Linked DNA regions of Homo sapiens. The protein of the gene in region 1 interacts with the protein of each later gene in a pairwise test. Each region holds a gene or a part of one and is shown in the gene's direction. Other genes may lie near its edges.

Region 1 (4,595 bases):
TACCAGTGGTCCCTGCCCACCTGGGTTAGGAAAGGCTGGCTGGCCTGGGGAGGCTGTGGACGGCGTCTGCGGTGTCATCTGAGTGCCACGGCCATCGCTTCGAGACGGCGTCTGCTTGCTGCAGCCAGCCAAAGGTCTTAAGGAAGGCCGGGGCCACTGTCGGCAGGTGTGTGGCTCCAGATTGAAATTGTGACAATACCTCCAACCATGCCCTTCCGTCTTCCCACCGCGCAATCCAGTGCACCACCTCCCACCATGCAATCCAGCGCACCACCTCCCAGCAAAACCTCCAGGATCCGCCTCAAACCCAGCCCCATCCCACAGCCACCACCCTGGTCCGGGCCACCAATAGCTCTTGCTCAGACACAGGCAGTCACCTCTCCAGGGAGCACCCAGTGTCCATTCTGCCCTCGTTCTGGTCTATCCTTCACCCACAAATGGAGAGTATATTTTAGCATTAGATCAGTTCATGTCACTCTCTTGCTTAAAACCCCCGCCTGGCTTCCACTGCCTGGCATGAGAATCACCGCCACCTGCCCTACGGGACTGGCCCTGCCACCCCTGCCACCTGCCCCATGCCCGCTCCCCTAGCTCATGGTCCCCCAGAGTCACTGGCCTCCACCATCCTCTCAGCGAAACCCCACCAGCCACCACTGCGTGCCGCCCACCCACCCCGCCAGCCTCTCCATCACGTCTTCCTGCCTTCCCTTCTTTTGGGAAACTCTTTTTTTCTTGTTTGTTCATTTTATCTTCTGTGTCCCCAACTCGAATGGAGGCCACGAGGAACATTGTCTGTCTCATTCACTTCTGTGTCCCCAGAACCTAGAACCATGCCTGGCACACAGAACGTGCTTAATAGGAACTGAGACAGAGACATACAGGGAAGGAAAGAGGGAGAGAGACAGAGAAAGAGAGAGAAAATAAGAGAAGGGGAAGGAGAGATGGGGGAGAGGGAGGGAGAACCGCACACTGAATCCAGGGGTTCCTCTCCCACCCTTCATGTGCCTATGGTAACAAGGGAGTCCCCCTCTTCTGACCCCTTGTTGTCATCAAGCAAGAACGTCCGAGCCCCAGGCACCCTCTGAAATTCCCAAGAAGGAAGCATCCCAAGAAGGAAGCATCCCAAGAAGGAAGGCCCACAGGACGCTGGTCTGGAGCCATCCGGTTCCCGGTCTGCTCACCACGCTCAAGGAGCCCCTTAACAGGACCAGGAGGAGAACAGGCACCCAGCCTGGGGTTCCCCCCGGACAAGGCCATGCTGTGACCCAGGCTTGGTCCTGGCCCTGACCATGGGAAGCCCACCCCACAGGCCCTCACCCAGGCAGGCCTGAGGCCCATGCACCACTAAAGGCCTGGAGAGGGGGTCCCACCCCAGCCTCACCTGGGTCCCCTGGGGTCAGGGTGAGCTGGGACAGAGGGACCACCTGTTGCTATGGGAGAGGGAGAGGGCACGACTTTCCCAGTGGAATGGGCTCCTGCTGTGCTCTGAGCCCTGGGTCACTGTCCCCACTCTGGGGAGGGAGGGGAGGAGCCTGGAGCACCAAGGGCGCGGCTGGCAATAAAGGCAGATGCTCAAGTTGATGCCACCCCACGCACGTGAGGCTGGGACCAGGGGTGGCACTGACACGGCTGGGGAGCCCACTCCCGAGGTTCGACCCGGGGATGTGCACAGCCACATTCCAAAGGCGCACGGGATGAGATCAGCCCGGGTGACCCTGGGACTTTGTCCTCCTCGGCAGGAGCCAGCCCTGTGCACCCTGTGTGCCTGTCCATCTGGAAGGCCCAGCATGAGAGGCCCGGCCGTCCTCCTCACTGTGGCTCTGGCCACGCTCCTGGCTCCCGGGGCCGGAGCACCGGTACAAAGTCAGGGCTCCCAGAACAAGCTGCTCCTGGTGTCCTTCGACGGCTTCCGCTGGAACTACGACCAGGACGTGGACACCCCCAACCTGGACGCCATGGCCCGAGACGGGGTGAAGGCACGCTACATGACCCCCGCCTTTGTCACCATGACCAGCCCCTGCCACTTCACCCTGGTCACCGGTGAGTACTGCCCTGTGACGGGGCCTGGGGGTGGGAGGGCCTGAGAAACCAGATGGCACAGAGCCGTGTCGTGCAGGATAAAGGGGAGAGGTCCTTGCTCCAGGCACAGGACAGAGCCAAGGGGACCATTAGGAATCCTCACCGTTGGTAGCAACAGATCCGGGACAAAGAAAAATGACCAGGGGGGTCCTTAAACCCGTGGCCACAGCCAGGGCAGCAACCCCAGAAGGCTTCAGGAGGAGGGGAGTGTGGCGGGCTCCCCGCTGGCTCCCATGGCTCCCCTCCCCTGCCCGCCCCTCCAGCTGGCTGTGTCAGCCTCTCCCTCTCCCTTCCATCCTTTCCATTTTCCACCCAACACCTCCCTGACAGATCTGCCCAGGCTGTAGACAATACAGACATAGGTTTTTAAAAAGCCAAATATGGGGCCAGGCTCAGTGGCCCACGCCTGTAATCCCAGCACTTTGAGAGGCTGAGGCGGGCGGATCACTGGAGGTCAGGAGTTCGAGACCTGCCTGGCCAACATGGCGAAACCCCATCTCTACTAAAAATACAAACATTAGCCAGGCATGATGGTGCATGCTTGTAATCCCAGCTACTTGGGAGGCTGAGACAGGAGAATTGCATGAACCCAGGAGGTGGAAGTTGCAGTGAGCTGAGATCGCACCACTGCACTCCAGCCTGGGTGACAAAGCAAGACTGCATATAATATATATATACATATATATATACATATATATATGTATATATATATATATATACACACACATATATATATATATGAGGCCAAGGCAGGAGGATTGCTGGAGTCCAGGAGGTAGAGGCTGCAGTGAGCTGCAATCACACCACTGCACTCCAGCCTGGGTGACAGAGCAAGACCCTGTGTCAAAAAAACAAACAATAATAAAATAATAAAAAGCCAAGTACCACAAAAAAGGTGTTAGAGAATTGAAAAGCAATTGGCCCTCCCTAGGGGCTCAGCCACCTCCCAAACCTGCGTCATCCTCCAAAGACCCTGCGTGGGTGTCCCAGGGCGCCTGCAACAAAGATCTGCAGACTGGCTTAAACCCACAGAAACGGATCCGCATGCTTCTGGAGGCCAGAAGGCCAAACCCAGGGCATTGCAGGGCTGCACCCACCCGGAAGGTTCCAGCAGAGGCTCCCTCCTCACCTCTTCTGGCTCCTGGGGCCTCGGCAATCCTTGGCATTCCTGGGCTGGCGGCAGCATCACTCCGACCTCTCCCCACGTCTCCCCAGGGCCTTTCCCCTGTGTGTGTGTGTCTGTATTCAAACTTTCCTCTTCTCACTAGTACACCAGTCGCTGAATTTCGGGTCCACACTTCTCTGGTATACATCCCCTTACCCTAGCTAATCACATCTGCAAAGACCCTATTTCTAAATAAGGCCACGTTCTAAGGTTCCAAGTGAGCATGAATGTGGTGGGACACCATCCACCCCAACACAGGCAGCTCATCCCCACACCAGCCTTTCTGCCCCTTCTAACCGCAAACGGAGGTGTGCGGGTCTCCCGTCTGCGCAGCGCCTCTTTTGCTCTCTGTATCGCAGATGAGGACGGGAGGGACCTTCTCCACATCATCTCTCCTTTTGCACCTTTTGGACTTAGTACCATGTGCACGTGTTTCCTGTACAAAAATAAATTCAAAAAATCTCCTGGAGCTCCACGTAGTTCACTGAAATTCCTGCCTGGGATCTCGTCTGATGGCTGGGCCATCATTTATTTAATGAGTTCCTTCCTGACGGCCGTGGAGGTCACCCGCAATCTTTTGCTAAAGCAAACAAGGCTGCCACCAGGATCCCTGCACACGCATTCGTGCCTGTGTGCCCGTCCAGCTGTGGGACAAACTGAAAGTGGAAGTGCGATTGCTAAAACAGGTCAAAGAACACGTGTCTATTTGTCTCAGACATGACCTCGAACCTTGGCTCCCACGGGGCAGTGCAGGAGGAAGTCTGCTCCCCCCAGCCCTGCCCCAGGCCCACTCCCCACCCAGCACACAGGGAAACCTGGGCTGTTTTGACTTCGCCTCTTCCAGCCCTGGGTCCGGCCTTCGCTGTGACCCCGGTCCATCCCGCCGCCCTCTGCACCTCTTCCTCCCTCAGGCAAATATATCGAGAACCACGGGGTGGTTCACAACATGTACTACAACACCACCAGCAAGGTGAAGCTGCCCTACCACGCCACGCTGGGCATCCAGAGGTGGTGGGACAACGGCAGCGTGCCCATCTGGATCACAGCCCAGAGGCAGGTAATGTCACCCCCGCCCATACTGACATCGCAGAGCACGGGGGCACCTAGGCCCAGGTGAGGCTTGGAACCATGTGAGATCCACGGCAGGTCCCTTCCCCACTCCAGGGTCTCGGGGCTCCTGGCCTACCCTGGCACAGAAGGGTGTGAAGTAGGGCCCCAAAAGGGGCAGGTGGTGGGTGCTGGTGAGGACTAACCAGTGAGCTACGTCCGGCTCGGCCCATGGACACAGCCCTGCCCGGTCCTCTCTGGGGGGCCCTGGGAGCAAGAGGGATTGCTCTGTCCCCCTAGTCGG
Region 2 (4,471 bases), on another chromosome or scaffold:
GTCATATGTTCCCTTCTTCATATCCTCACCCAGGCAAGATAAAGGTGGGACAGGCCAGACTACATAGAAGGCAGTGATTGAATATCACACCTGACCCATGAAGCGGCAGGGAGGCCTCAAGCACAAAAGCCATAAGCCTGATGGAACACTGCAGCCAGCTTGAGTCTGGGCTCAGCTGCTCTCTTGGGAAGCCAAGGAAGCAGTGACAATTGAACAAAACATCCCGACTTAAACCCCGTGTCAAAACAAGGATCTTCTGCACCTGGGCATTGTGTTGATAATTTTCCTGTGGAGCTCTTAATTGAAGCCAAATTTGGCTTTGCCTTGGTGGTACTGGGGCCAGCTCCTTTTAGTTTTTCTGTCTTTCCTCTTAAAACCAACCACCACTCCTAACATAGCACCATCCACCCCCACCACCTCTTTAATATGCTCCACTTAATAAGTTAATTCAGGTGGCTAAGAGTGGGAATAGGGCCTTTGACCTCCCTTCACTATATTGAATATTATATTTTATGTAAAATAATCATCTTAACACTAGTAAATCTGGGTCAGCAGCATCTATCCCTCCTAACAAAGGGACAAACAGAGGTGCCCTTCATTTGTCCTGCGTTACACAAGTGAGTCCCCCACCACCCTGGCCAGAGGACAAAGTTGAGACAGCACCGCCTGCACCGTGCAGTGTGGCTCAGCCGCCTTCACGTCCTCACCAGTGCTCCAGGGCCCTGGCCCTGGCACCTTCTTTGTATTGGCTGCCCCAGTCTCGCGGCACGGACACACCCTCAGATGTCAACAGTGCCCTGCGTACCTGAGAAGGTGTGGCACCAGGACCTTGCATCTATCTGAGGCTCCCCTGCCCTAGGGACCCTATGGGGTACCCTTCTCCCCAGCAGCTCAAGCTGGCTCTGCCCAGCCGTGGCCCCTGGGGCCTCCCTGATGAGGCCGCCATCTTGGCGAGGAGCAAGCGGGGAAGTCCCCATGGGCCGGGATCACCACGCACGCTGCGCCTCGAGTCACGGGGGCGGGAGCGAGGCGCGGCGCGGATGAAAGGGCCCTGGGGCCTTCCAAATAGGAGGGAACAGTGCCCTGGATTCCGGCGGGGGTATGGACCTTAGGAACGGGGAAGGATGGAAGAATGGGCAGAAGCAGCAGTAACCGTGCCCAACGCCATCTCCACGGGGCGTGCCTCCATTCCGCTCCCCGTCAGCCCTACCCACTCAGCCCTGCCGCCTGCCGCCTGCCAGTTGGCTGACCCCACTCCCAAGGGAAGAGCGGCCTATCGCTCCCAGCTCCTTGCCCCGAACCACCCAGTGTACGCGAACCTCGCGGGCCGGCGTGGCCTTGGCCGGGCAGGGGGCGGGGCGAGCGCCGGTGACGCGGCCGTTGCCATGGGAACTCGCCGCCCGCTCGCTCTCTGGAGCTGGAGCCGGAGCTGCCGCCAGCCGCCCGCCTCAGGCTCTCTCTGCCAGCCGTGCGGCCAGGCCCGCGGGGTGGTCGGGGGGAGCCGGGCGGCAGAGAAGGAGGGAGCGGGTACGGCCTCCTAGCCGAGACCGGTAAGCCGAAGCCCTTGAGCCGCTCGCTGCCGCTGCCGCCGCCGCCGCCGCGACCGCGAGGGACAAGGACAAGCGCCGAGCAGCGCCTGCCCAACCCCCGGAACGCGCACCCGCCCCAACGCCCAGACACGGACCGTGCGGGCCGCCCCCGCCCCAGCGCCGCCCCACTTCAGCCCGGCCCGCGCCCTGGACGCCTCCGCACCTCTGGCCGGCTCCGGCTCAGTCCCGGTAGCTCTTCTCCGCCCCCGCCGCAGCCTCCGCCGCAGCCGCAGCCTCCGCCACAGCCGCCGCCTCCACCCCCGGCCCCACTCCGCCCGCGACCCCTGCCGGGGCCCCGACCCCGGCCCTATCCCCGGCCCCGCCCGCGGCCCCACCAACCTCCGTTCCGGCCCCGTACCCGGAGGCCCAGCCGTGGGCACGATGCTGCCCAGCTCCATCCAGATTTCGGGGGAGCCGCTGTCCGGCGCCGAGGTGCGGGACATCTGCCGCGGCCTTCGCGACAACGCCGTGCGCCTGCTCTCACTGCGCGGCTGCCGCCTCTGCGACCGCGACTTTGGCCGCATCTGCCGGGCCCTGGCCGGGGCCACGTCCCTGGCGCAGCTCAACCTTAACCTGGGCGTCGTGTCCAGCCCCAGCCGCATCAAGCAGCTGGCTGAGGCTCTGCGGACCAACCGCTCCATCCAGTCCCTCTTGTGAGTGCGCCCCCTCGCAAGGGGGTCCCGGGCACTGCACCCTTCCATACACTCCCCTGGCACCTCCTGTTCCTCCACACTCCTTCCAGTACCATCCTACCTTCACATGCCTTATGCACATACACCGTGCCTCGGCCCATGCCTTCACAGCACCCTCCAAGCACATGCTTGGACTTTGCACGCGCGACCCTAGCCGTGTTGGGATACCCACCAGTTCCTGACATGAGGTGGGGGCCGTACCTCCCCACCTAATCATCTGCATTTACTTCACTGGGGCAGCTCCTTGGTTCCCAAGGGGGAATATCCCCGTGGGGACGAGAGCCCTGCCCACTGCAGAGTTCCGGTCCACCACCCACCCACCCCTTCTCTGCCCCTCCCTGTGCAATGTCCTGGATCCCTGCCCCAGAAAACAAACCGAATTCTCCCTCTATCTGTATTCCCTGAGAATCTAGAACTTTCCTTCTCCTTTTCCAGGCCTCTCAAGCGCTGTGACTGCCCTCCCCATACCTAGGGCTGACAGAAGTGAAAGTGCCCCTTTCCCATGTAGATAGTGCGGAGGACTGCAGTAACCCTGCTCTCTCACTCTCCTCCAGCCTGCATGGGAGCCCCCTGACAGATGCGGGGCTGGCCTTGCTGAACCCAGCCCTGGCCCTCCACCCTGCCCTCGTGGCTCTGGACCTGGGGGACTGCATGCTGGGTGATGAAGCCATCAACCTCATCTGTGGCCTCCTGCCCCCAGATGGGGCCAAATCTGGTGAGCAGGACCCTGTTGAGGGCTTGGGCTAGTGTGGCAGTGATGAAAATCGAAATGCAGAGGGAAGGGGGTGTGGCCCCAGAGCTCTGATGATGTGGGCGAGAACATCTTTCTACTCCTCTCAGGAAGGGGCAGGACGGGGGGCAGCATGGAGACTCAGGAATCCAGGCTGGGGCAGGCAGAGGAAGCATGGGCCTCCTTAATGGCTCTTGACCTCTATGGTGGGGGTAAGGTGGTGCCCAGCCACTAGGGACACCCCAGAGACACAGGGATTGTGGGGAAGGGCTGGAGGAGGGCTTAACCCTCCCTATTCTGGTTTCTTGCTATGATGCTGCCCAGGCTTGAAGGAGCTAACGCTGAGTGCCAACCCTGGCATCACCCCTAAGGGCTGGAGCCGCCTTGCCATTGCCGTGGCCCACAGCTCCCAGGTCCGCGTCCTCAATCTGGATTACAACCCCCTGGGTGAGGCTCAAGAATACCCCCTTGGGCTGTCACTGCCTCATGCCCTATCCAAGAGCCTGGGACCATCAGTTGACATGGTAACCCGTACACTGGGAGAGGGAAGAGAAACGGGAGCCCCCAGGGGTCAAGGAGATAGCTTTGTGGCGGACCAGGTGACCAACAAATAGATCAAAACATCAGTCACCACCCGTGGGCCTAACTTGCTTCGTGCCTTCACTCACCAATCACAATGATCCCTTCCTGACCACCACCAATTGTCCATGTTTCCTTGGCCAGGGATTAGTATCTAAAGTTGTTAAGGCAATGGGGAAGCTATCTGTAAGGATTAGCAGGCATGTGTATGAATGTGTGCACGTGTGTTGTCTCCCCAGGTGACCATGTGGCAGGAATGCTGGCTGTAGCTGTGGCCTCTAGTCGTACCCTAGAGGTCCTAGACTTGGAGGGCACAGGGCTCACCAACCAGTCAGCTCAGGTGGGAAGTCGTCATGTTTGGGCACGGCCAGGGGATGGGGTGGAGGTTAGTTTATGTGTCTGATGACATACCTAAGGCATGGCAGGTTGAGGTCTGAGGACCTGCCTTAACTGTGTTCATCCTTTTCCATATTCTTCCCCACTTCAGACCCTGCTGGACATGGTAGAAAATTACCCCACAGCTTTGCGGAGCCTGGTGTTGGCTGAGAACAGCATTAGCCCAGAGCTGCAGCAACAGATCTGTGACCTCCTCTCTGAGGGAGAGGAGGAGGAGGAAGTGGCAGGAGGGGCTGGCGACACCCAGGAATGGGAGAGAGGGCGGGAGCCTGCTGCCCACCAGAGAGGCAGCAGCTCCTGGATGTGCCCCAGCGGTAAGAACCCAGAGGGTTGATCAGAGCCAGGTCTGGAAGAGGCTCGGGACAAGGGAGAGTGGGTGTGCAGAACCTAGGCTCTCACCTATCTGTGGTCCCCATTGGAGGAAGGAATGGTGGTCTGAACACTTCTCTGCCCTTCCACAGATCCCAGCTCTCAGATGGTGCTAA

Evidence for each region.
Region 2: the proteins of ENPP7 (region 1) and LRRC73 interact in binary tests that used the Homo sapiens proteins (3 or more experiments, as listed by UniProt).

What each region holds. Positions count from the first base shown.
Region 1 is NC_000017.11:79,729,353-79,733,947, forward strand, and holds the start of ENPP7 (ectonucleotide pyrophosphatase/phosphodiesterase family member 7 precursor), read left to right. Parts: upstream 1-1,590; 5' UTR 1,591-1,694; coding exon of another isoform or gene 1,695-1,787; coding exon 1,788-2,040; intron 2,041-4,155; coding exon 4,156-4,301; intron 4,302-4,595. UniProt on the Homo sapiens protein: Choline-specific phosphodiesterase that hydrolyzes sphingomyelin releasing the ceramide and phosphocholine and therefore is involved in sphingomyelin digestion, ceramide formation, and fatty acid (FA) absorption in the gastrointestinal tract.
Region 2 is NC_000006.12:43,507,285-43,511,755, reverse strand, and holds the start of LRRC73 (leucine-rich repeat-containing protein 73), read left to right. Parts: upstream 1-1,409; 5' UTR 1,410-1,970; coding exon 1,971-2,242; intron 2,243-2,835; coding exon 2,836-2,996; intron 2,997-3,335; coding exon 3,336-3,458; intron 3,459-3,829; coding exon 3,830-3,930; intron 3,931-4,077; coding exon 4,078-4,300; intron 4,301-4,447; coding exon 4,448-4,471.